Homo sapiens: one gene and its partners. Changing the gene in region 2 together with the main gene of any one other region gives a genetic interaction. Each region holds a gene or a part of one and is shown on either strand. Other genes may lie near its edges.

Region 1 (3,650 bases), on a different chromosome or scaffold from region 2:
CCGGAAACCCAGAGCCTTTCCAAGTGAGTGGCCCCACCGGTCATCTCATTGCCCAAGCCAGAAACCTCTCGGCCACACTGGAGAGCTCCCAGAATGAGTCCTCTGCACTCCCCAGTCCATCTCCGGGGCTTCAAAGTGGCTTGTTTGCTTCTGTCCTTGTCTTAGCCGCAGACTGTTCTCAGTCCTCCCACCGTGCCTCTCAGCTTCCACCCTGCGGTCCCCACCCCTTCCTTTATCCTCTGGAAGGTGCTATGCTTCCCCCTGCCTCAGTGGGCTTCCAGGAGAGAATTAAGCCCTCACAGCCCAAGGCATCTACTGGATGTAATAAGTGGGCACCTCTCCTTCGTGTCTAGAAGGTTACTAGTCTTGGACCATCCTTGGGAGAACTGAGAAGTCACTCAGATCATTTTCTGTGGGCCTTAATTCTGTCACGCTTGAGAAAGACTGCTTTGGCCACGGGACCTTTGCATGTGCTGTTATGGCTGCTGGAATGCTCCCTCAGTGCTTCTCTGGGTCATGCCTGCTCGTTCTTGAGATCAAGGGTCAAGTACCCCTCAGGTTCCTTTTATAAGTGGCCTCAGCACCATGTTCCAATTTCTCCTCAGCACTTGTTTCTCAGTTTCACATTTATTGGCATGATTATTTGATGTACGTCTCTCTCCCACACTCTGTGTCCGTTGCCTGTGCTAGAAATGTGGGAGGTGCTCCATAAACAGCTGTTAGGAAGACATCCGTGAAGTTCTGAGGACTCTGATGGCACCAAGTGGAGCTTGCAGGTGTGGCTTGAGAAGGTGCAGTGTGAATGATAGGCCTAGGTGATAGGCCGAGAAGATCGGTCAAGCCCAGATATGACCCACTGGGCCTGTCAGTGTCCAGGAGGTGGGGTGAGGCACAGGTCTAAGGTTCTGGATCTGTCAGTACCACCTGAGGAGTTGGGAATGGGCACAGGTACAAAGTGATGAGTCTTCATTGTTCAACAAAGAATGGCACAGGTGTGAGGATCTGGGTTTGTCAGTATCTGAGGATGTGGGGCCTGGCACAAGTATGAGGCACTGGGCCACTGTTCAAGCAGGTGGGCTGGGGAACAGAAATGTAGCTGTGGGTTTTTAATATCTGAGGAGACCTAGCCAAGTGTAGCAGAGAGCTGCTGGGTCTTTCATTGTCCAAGGAAGCATACCTGGGCACAAGTATGAGACTGAGAAGGTGGGTCCTGGCACCGGTAAGGGGCTCTGGGTCTGCAAGTGTCTATGGAAGTAGGGCCTGGTACAGGTATGTGGTGCTGGAAGAGGTATCCAAGGAGGTGGGCTAAGTACAGGTATGACATCTGGGTCTTCCAGTGTGTGAGGAGGTAGGATCTGGTACAAGTATGAGGCCCTGGGTCTGCTGGTGTCTGAGGAGATAACAGCAGGTTACAGGTATGAGGCCCTGGGTCTGCTGGTGTCTGAGGAGGTAACATCTAGTACAGGTATGAAATCTGGGTCTTCCTGTGTCTGAGAAGGTAGCACCTGGCACAGGTATGAGGATCTGGGTCTTCCCAATGTTTGAGGAGGTAGCATCTGGCACAGGTATGAGGATATGGGTCTTCCATGTCTGAGGAGGTAGCACCTGGCACAGGTATGAGAATCTGGGTCTTCCAGTGTCTGAGGAGGTAGCACCTGGCACAGGTATGAGTATCTGGGTCTTCCCGTGTCTGAGGAGGTAGCACCTGGCACAGGTATGAGGATCTGGGTCTTCCTGTGTCTGAGGAGGTAGCACCTGGCACAGGTATGAGGATCTGGGTCTTCCCGTGTCTGAGTAGGTAGCACCTGGCACAGGTATGAGGATATGGGTCTTCCATGTCTGAGGAGGTAGCACCTGGCACAGATATGAGGATCTGCGTCTTCCAGTGTTTGAGGAGGTGAGTTTGGACTCAGGTTTGAGGCCCTTGGGCTTCCAGTGCCTGAGGAGATAGCATCTGGCACAGGTATGAAGCCCTGAGTCTTCTAGTGTCTGGGGAAGTGAGGCTGGGTACAAGTATGAGGATCTGTGTCCATCAGTATCTGAGGAGGTGGGATCGGGTCCTGGTATGAGGATCTGGGTCTGTCCATGTCTAAGGAGGTAAGATCTGGCCCTGGTATGAGGATCTAGGACTGTCCATGTCTGAGGAGTTACCATCTGGTACAGGAATGAGGATCTGGGTCTGTCAATATCAGAGGAGGTAGGAATCTGGTACAGGTATGAGGATCTGCGTCTGTCAAAGTCTGAGGAGTTACCATCTGGTACAGGAATGAGGAGATGTGTCTTCCAGTGACTTAGGAGGTACGATCTCTTATAGGTATGAGGATCTGGGTCTGTCAATGTCTGAGGAGGTAGGATCTGGCCCTGGTATGAGAATCCGGGTCTGTCCATGTCTGAGCAGGTAGGATGTGTCCCTGGTATGAGGATCCGGGTCTGTCAATTTCTGAAGAGGTGGGAATTTGGTACATGTATGAGGATCTGGGTCTGTCAGTATCTGAGGAGGTAGGATCTGGTACAGTTGTGAGGATCTGGGTCTTCGGGTGTCTGAGGAGGTGGCATTTGGCACAGGTATGAGAATCTGGATCTTCTAGTGTCTGAGGAGGTGGGATCTGGTATTAATTATGAGAATCTGGTTCTGTCAGTGACTGAGGAGGTAGGATCTGGCATAAGCATGAGGATCTGGGTCTGTCAATGTCTGAGGAGGCAGTATCTGGTACAGGTATGAGGATCTGGGTCTGTCATGTCTGGAGGTAAGATCTGGCATGAGTATGAGGATTTGGTTCTGTTCATGTCTGAGGAGGTAGGATCTGGTGCAGGTATAAGGATCTGGGTCTTTCAATGTCTGAGAAGGTAGGATCTGGTACAGGTGTGAGGATCTGGGTCTGTTAATGTCTGAGGAGGTAGGATCTGGCACTGGTAAGAGGATCTGCATCTGTCAGTTTCTGAGGAGGTAGGATCTGGCCCTAGTAAGAAGATCTCAGTCTGTCAATTTCTGAGGAGGTTGGATCTGGCCCCCTTATGAGGATCTGAGTCTGTCAATATCTGAAGAGGTAGGAATCTGGTACAGGTATGAGGATCTGTGTGTGTGTCAGTGTCTGAGGAATTAGGAATCTGGTACAGGTGTGAGGATCTTCATGTCTCTGTATCTGAGGAAGTAGGATCTGATACAGGTATTAGGATCTGGGTCTATGTCTGAGGAGGTAGCATCTGATACAGGTATGAAGACCTGAGTCTGTCAGTGTCTGAAGTGGTTGGATCTGGCCCTGGTATGAGGATCTGGGTTTGTCAGTATTTGAGGAGGTAGGATCTGTCCCTGGTAGGAGGGTCTGTGTCTTCTAGTGTCTGAAGAAGTAGGATCTGGCCCTGGTATGAGGATCTGGGTCTGTCAGTATCTGAGGAGGTAGGATCTCATACAGGTATGAGGATCTGGGTTTTTCAATGTCTGAGGAGGTAGGATCTGGCACAGGCATGAGCATCTGGGTCTGACCATGTCTAAAGAGTTGAAGCTGTGTGCAGGTATGAGGCCTTGGGTCTGCCAGTGTCTGGGGAGGTGAGGCTGGGCATGGGTGTGAGACCCTGGGTCTGTCCATATCTGAGGAGGTAGGATCTGGTATGAGTATGAGGATCTGGGTGTGTCCGTGTCTGAGGAGGTG
Region 2 (3,650 bases):
CTTATTTCTACTCAAGGCACTGAGTTAATCTGTTCAGAGAAAATGTCTAGAGTCAATTACTGCCTTGTCTTAACAAATTTAAGAGTTTCACCATTCAATAAATAATCAGGTTTCAAGCGATCATCCTCTGTTTCTCTCTCTTCTTTCTTCCCTCCAAGTTATCAACTTCTGTGGACTTGTATGTATTTGCTACCTTCTCTTTTCCTTCCTGGATATTTCTCTGATTCCCTGTGTTCCATGCTACATCTTCACCTTCCCAGAGAAGACACTCCCTTAAGGATCACCAGTGACTCACTCCAGAGAATGGCACAATGTCCTACCAATTATACCAATTACATTCATATCAAGTGAGATAATGTATCTGAAAGTGCTTGTTAAACATTAAAGAATTCTATAAAGAGGATGATATTATTATATCCCAAATGATCTATAAATTTCCACTGTGACTGCCACCGTGTAAGAGGCTTTTAACCAAGCTTCCTGATTCCCTGTCTCCCTCGGCTTCAATCCATCCTATGCTCTGATACCTGAGTTATCTTCCTGAAATAAAGAGATCTATTCCAGTCATTTCACTGCTCAAAACCCTTTAGTAATTTCCCATTGTACAATGAGTAGATTTCAAACACAAAACTCTTCAATTGGCCATTGTAAATCCTACCTACCATTTGAGACCTTTTACTGTTATACTCCTCTCCCCACTGTCCCCTCCCTCCAATTACCACGTTCTCACTTTCAGTCCATGTTTCTCTGCATGCCAACCTTAATCCCTCTGATGCCTTCTGCTCCCATGGTGACCCCTGAAGCTCTATCCATTTATCCTGAATGGTCTATATCCAATCCCATCTCCTACTAGAAACCTTCTAAGAGGTGAATTTAAGACTAAATATATCTCCACACAGCTCACAGTCTCATATGCCAGAAACTCCATCATGTATGAGACCTACTTACGTATGCATCTTTCTATCTTGTAAAAGTTCAGCTGGCCATGAGAAGAATAGTCTCTCTGGAGGAATATTTATCCCAAGGAAGATGCTCAAAAATGATTCATTAAATTAATTTGTACTTGCATCATCACTAATAAGTATATTAAAGGAGTTATTTGAAACACCTAGAAAAGTTCATTGTTAATTTTTAAATGGAGTTATTGGTGCTTTTCAAATACAGTAAAAAGAAATAGCCTATACCTGATTAATAATTTCATAAAACACACAAATTGCTAAAATGAAAAAGCAATAGCTAAATCTTAATATTTATTTCATAACAGTAAACAAAAAGCCAAGTTCTAACAAATTATGCATGGAGAAAGAAAATAAATAACAGAGAACAAGAATATGTATCATTGATGAAATGAACGATATTATGTGCTTGTGTCTGGATAAATGTCACTTGGAGTCCCCATCTCGGAAGCTGGTTCATTTACCCTCCTACCAGCTGATAGACTTGAATCTTTGGACCCACTCCAAGACTGCCTGGCCTCCTAAAGTTTCCCTGGCTTTAAAAGACTATGAGGTCAATCACCATAGAGCATACTCCTCCTTCTAGGGTTACTCTGAAGCTGAAACTGCCTTAAGAAGAGAGAGAGAAGGGAAAATTTCCAGGACCTTTGTCTTGTGGCACTAGCTTTGTTTTAGGACAGCATAAGACCTGCAAATATCTCCACCTTAAGAAAAATGAACTAAGATTAGTAGTGTCATGAAGTTGGCCTAGATCTGTGGTTTCAGTCCCAGGCTGTGCTCTATAATCACCTGGAGAGTTTTAAGAAAATGTCCATGTCTGGGCTCAGCACCCATACATTATGAAGTACTTGATTTGATGCCCAGGCATCAGTATGATTTAAAAGTCTCCCAGGTGCATAGTCAGCTTGGGCTACTATAACAAAATACCATTTACTGGGTGGCTAACATAACAGACATTTATTTCTCACAGATATGGAGGCTGGGAAGTTTAAGATCAAAAGGCCAGCAGATTTGATTCCTGGCGAGGGCTCTCTTTCTGGATTGCAGATGGCTGCCTTCTTGCTGTGTCTTTACATGGTGAATAGAGAGAGGATTCTGGTCTTTTTCTCTTCTTATACAGACACTAAACCCATCAATGACAGCTTCACCCTCATGACCTAATTACCCTGCAAAGGCCCTGTCCCCAAATACGATCACAATGGCAGGTTAGGGCTTCAACATGAATTTTGGAGAGGACACAAACATTCAGTCCATAACACCAAGTAAGTTCAAAATGCAGCCAGGATTGAGAATTATCAACCTAGATAAATGGTTGTCAGCGTTTTTGTGCACTAAAACACACATGACAATAATATCCCACATGCTCCTCAAGGGTATCCTTATGCTCCTTTGGGCAGATCATGATTTTGCACAACTCTGTGTAGCAGCTGAGACAATACCACCTTGACATATCCTATTCAAGAAAATGTGTCAGAATGCAAGTGGGTAAAAATTTAATAATAGAAATAATTTTCAATCTGATGACAATATGAATAAAAACCATTAGAAAATCTAAAAACTTCCTTATATCTGGCCAGCATGTTCTAAGCATGTAATCAAGACTCTGTTTATTACCATGATCTCTGCTTAAAGGAGTCATTTTAAAAATCAATGTTTTATTTTATTCCTACTCAAGGTACTGAGTTAATCAGTTCAGAGAAAAGAGCTCATAGTGAGACCCATCCTTAGGTAAATACATTAGAGCTTTAGGATTCAAGAAATAGGCAGTTCAGTCAGTAACAGTGAAAAAGTAGAAAATTTATCCAGTAAGTGCTAAAGGGGAAGGCAGAGAGAGAGGGTAGAATGTTTCTCCAAGAGCAGGAAAATATCTGTATTCTCATCATAGTTATGGATATTCTAACAGAAAATCCTTCTTTCTTACTAATGAATAAATTATTTCCAAGTACCCAAGTACTACATTTCCAAGGAAACTTGTAAAAAAAACTATCCCCTGTTAGCATGCACATAAATTGACTTGTACTTATTGAATAAGGCCAAAAACTTCACATTAACCAGTACCCAAAATAACTGAGTTTACTTTAATATCTGTGGGCAAATATCAGAAGGGGAAAACAAAGACAATCAGCCCATTTTACCACACTGGAATATTTAGGCAAAAACATCTGCCAACTCATACTTTAAAAATTTTGTTAACTACAAAGACCCCCAAATGATATTAACACAGTAAAAATATTTTTAACTAATGGTTTCAAATAGCATTAATCTCTTCCCTATCAAACTTTTCATCAAGGTGCTGAGCAAACTTAAGTTTATTTAATTATCTTAAACTCATGCTAAAAGAAAGTGAAGCTGAAGAGGAAATAGCAACAAAAAAAGAAAAAGAAAAGAAGGAAGGATTAAAGGAATGAAGGATAAAAGGAGGAAGGGAGGGAAGAAGGGAGGAAAGGGGAAGGAAGGAAAAATAGAAGGAAGGAGGGAAAGAAAAAAGGAAGGGAGGAAGGTAGTTGAGAAGAAAATAAAGCAAATATCCTAACAAAAGATCATCTCCTTTTTTTCTGCTTTTGACTCCTATGAAGATTTTTAACTGATCCCATGTCCCATTCCATTTGAATTCAACTCAGTTCAAATATTTGCTATGTGCAGAGTTAAACTTGTGTAGCACATCCTCTCTAGGATTAATGATAAAACTATTGA
Region 3 (3,650 bases), on a different chromosome or scaffold from region 2:
GACCCTCACTAGGGCAGGGAGTGGCTTCAGGATAGGAAAGGGGACGCAAGGAAGACACCAGGAATGGCCGGGCGCGATGGCTTACGCCTGTAATCCCAGCACTTTGGGAGGCCGAGGCGGTCAGATCACCTGAGGTCGGGAGTTTGAGACCAGCCTGACCAACATGGAGAAACCCTGTCTCTACTGAAAATACAAAATTAGCTGGGCGTGGTGGCGGGTGCCTGTAATCCCAGCTACTCAGGAGGCTGAGGCAGGAGAATCTCTTGAACCCAGGAGGCAGAGGTTGCGGTGAGCTGAGATGGTGCCATTGCACTCCAGCCTGGGCAACAAGAGTGAAACTGTCTCAAAAAAAAAAAAAGACACCAGGAACAAGAGGGGGACAAGGCAGGAGCCCCAGCTCTCCCGGGACTCCCTGCAGAGAGGAGGTTGCTAAGTGGGGGTGAGGGAGGAAGGCAGCCCCTGTCTGCCCCTTCTCCTGGCTCTGTCACCATAGGCCTCAGAGGCCCATGTTCCTGGCTGGCTTTTCCAGGAGTGTGACTGCCTCACCCTGACCCCAGCGTTGGGAGCAGGGCAGAGGGAGGGTTCTCTGCAGTCGCCGTGGACACAGGGACCTGCCCTCAGCTCCTGGGAGCTCTCCAGGGAGACTGCAGAGACCCCGGCCTCGGAGGGGCCCGGTGGACAGCAGCCCGAGCTGATGGCCCACAGGCCTCTGCAGGCGTGTGTCTGCTGGCCGCAGCTGCCCATCTCCCCGGCTACCTCCTGGCTACTCCCTCCACTTGCCACCAGCAGCCTGCCTATTATTCCAGGTCCTGCCCTCAAACTGGGAGGGAGGTGAGGCTCGGAGAAAGCGCCACCCTCCTGGGTGAGCTCTGAATCTGCCACATGGCCTCTGGCCTGCAGGGTTGGGGCAGGGAGTGGGAATCCCAGAGGGCTGCTTCTCACACAGGCAGAGCAGGGTTCCTGGGCCAGGGGCTAGGAACCGGGCACCCGGCGGGGAACCTACTCCCCAGCTGACTTGCGGCTCACCACCCCCAGCAGGCATCTCAGCATCTCCATCAGCATGGGATTCCTGGCTGGCCATCTCTCTCATGTACACATACACGTGTATGAGCCCGTGCTCATTCAGAGTACTGTAGACATTTTATTTTATGTTTATTTATTTATTTGCTTATTTTTGAGACAGAGTCTCACTCTGTCACCTGGGCTGGAGTGCAGTGGCATGATCACAGCCTATTGCAGCCTTAACCTCTCAAGCTCAAGCGATCCTGCCACCTCAGCCTCCCGAGTAGCTGGGACCACAGGTGTGCACCACCACACCCAGCTAATTTTTTTTTTTTTTAGATGGAGTCTCGCTCTGTTGCCCAGGCTGGAGTGCAGTGGTGCAATCTCAGCTCGCTGTAACCTCCGCCTTCCAGGTTCAAGCGATTCTCCTGCCTCAGCCTCCTGAGTAGCTGGGACTACAGGTGCGCACCACCATGCCTGGCTAATTTTTTGTATTTTTAGTAGAGACGGGGTTTCACCGTGTTAGCCAGGATGGTCTCGATCTCCTGACCTCATGATCTGCTGGCCTTGGCCTCCCAAAGTGCTGGGATTACAGGTGTGAGCCACCACGCCCAGACCATACCCAGCTAATTTTTTTACTTTTTGTAGAGACGGGGTCTCACTATGTTGCTCAGGCTGGTCTCAAACTCCTGGGCTCAAGTGATCTACCTGCCTGGGCCTCTCAAAATGCTGGGATTACAGACATGAGCCACGGCACCTGACCACAGTATTGTAGAAATTTTTAAACACGATGAATCATGGATACTTTCACTGATCCTTTCAAGTGCCCCTGCCCCTACCTACGCCTTTTAGAGGTAAGGAAAGCAAGCAGGCACAGAACACAAGACCTGCCCAAGGCTGAAGAGTGAGTTCACGGCAGAGGAAACACCCTGTGTCCCGCCCGGCCACACCACCCTCAGCTATGCAGCTCTGGCCTGCAGCCCAGTCCCCACCCCCACCCCTGTGACTAAGGGCTTTCCCCAATGTCAACTTCCCTAAGTCAGGCCAGAGTCTCTGGCGTGAGGAAGCTCTGTGGGTCAGTCCTCTCCAGAGCCACCTCCCCCTCTACAGGGGCAGAGACGCCGGGCCACCAGCCTCTGCTTGATTATGTCTGCGACGGGCTGCTCACTTAGTCTGTCACTTGCTTTTTTCTTTTTTTTTTTTTTCGGAGATGGAGCCTCCCTCTCTCACCCAGGCTGGAGTGTAGTGGCACAGTCTCGGCTCACTGCAACCTCCACCTCCCGGGTTCAAGCGATTCTCCTGCCTCAGCCTCCCTAGTAGCTTGGAATTACAGGCATGCGCCACCACACCTGGCTAATTTTTGTATTTTTAGTAGAGATGGGGTTTTACCATGTTAGCCAGGCTGGTCTCGAACTCCTGACTTCAGGCGATCCACCTGCCTCGGCCTCCCAAAGTGCTGGGATTACAGGCGTGAGCCACCACGCATGGCCACTCCATCACTTTTTTTTTTTTTTTTTTTTTTTGAGATGTAGTTTCACTCTGTCGCCCAGGATGGAGCGCATCGGGTTCTGCCTCCCAGGTTCAAGCGATTCTCCTGCCTCAGCCTCCCAAGTAGCTGGGATTACAGGCACGCACCACCATGCCTGGCTAATTTTTGTATTTTTAGTAGAGATGGGGTTTCACCATGTTGGTCAGGCTGGTCTCGAACTCCTGACCTTAAGTGATCCACCCACCTCGGCCTCCCAAAGTACTGGGATTACAGGCGTGAGCCACCACACCCAGCCTACTCTGTCACTTTTATACTCACACTGGCTCACACCACACATCCCCCCTCCACCGCAGACACACACAAGCATCTCATGCGCACACACTTCCCTGTCCCTTTAGTTGCACTCTCGGAGAGTAAGTTAGAGAAGCTCCACATGTGCTTGGGTGAATGGGGCCCCTGTGAGGTGCCAAGGAGCAGTCTGCAGCTCTTTTCTATTTTTTTGGGGTGTGGATTGGTGAGAAAGCAGCTGGGAGCCAGGCAAGGAACAGGCCCCCCTCCACATTGAGCCAAACCTCTAGGTGCAGACTTTGGTGGTGCTGGAGGTGGTGTGGGAGGGGAGAACCTACCCTGCCTGATTGTCTGCAGAGGCCAGTGCAAGGAGGCGCAGAGGGGCCCAGGGTTCCCCTCAGCTGTAGGGCTGGGAAGGTGGTGGGAGGGTGGGAGGGATCTAGCCAGTCTTCCTGAGGATGTTGGGTGTGGGGATGGGGCAGGTAAAACAGGATCTGAAGGTGCACACTGTAGTCTAGATGTCCTGGAACACTGCCCCGACTCCTCCCACCAACAGACCCCCAGCGAAGTGGGGGAGGTAAACTCATGAACCAATCCTGTTTCACCCGGATAGAATGAGCAGCCTCAGGTCTGTGTAGTTCAGGGTCTTGCTCCACCTTTCAGGGAATCCTCATCAGGGTCAAACATCGCCCATTCTGAATCCTCACTTTGTAGGGGAAAAAATTGAGGCACGGAGAGGGATCAGGCTTTGCTCAGGCCACATGGCCAGTCCATGGCAGGTGGGTATCAGAATCCAGGCCTGCTCGTGCCCTTGAAACCACCTGGCTAGTTCCAGCTGGAACTGCCCTCTCCAGCCACTCTCCTCCTCTCC

Evidence for each region.
Region 1: changes in PTPRZ1 (region 2) and GPI together harm fitness more than expected from each alone (negative genetic interaction), as found in Homo sapiens cells (one large-scale study listed by BioGRID).
Region 3: changes in PTPRZ1 (region 2) and SLC16A5 together harm fitness more than expected from each alone (negative genetic interaction), as found in Homo sapiens cells (one large-scale study listed by BioGRID).

The regions. Positions count from the first base shown.
Region 1 is NC_000019.10:34,389,196-34,392,845, forward strand, and holds part of GPI (glucose-6-phosphate isomerase), read left to right. Parts: intron 1-3,650. UniProt on the Homo sapiens protein: In the cytoplasm, catalyzes the conversion of glucose-6-phosphate to fructose-6-phosphate, the second step in glycolysis, and the reverse reaction during gluconeogenesis.
Region 2 is NC_000007.14:121,879,568-121,883,217, reverse strand, and holds part of PTPRZ1 (receptor-type tyrosine-protein phosphatase zeta isoform 1 precursor), read right to left. Parts: intron 1-3,650. UniProt on the Homo sapiens protein: Protein tyrosine phosphatase that negatively regulates oligodendrocyte precursor proliferation in the embryonic spinal cord. Required for normal differentiation of the precursor cells into mature, fully myelinating oligodendrocytes.
Region 3 is NC_000017.11:75,094,340-75,097,989, forward strand, and holds part of SLC16A5 (monocarboxylate transporter 6), read left to right. Parts: intron 1-3,650. UniProt on the Homo sapiens protein: Proton-linked monocarboxylate transporter.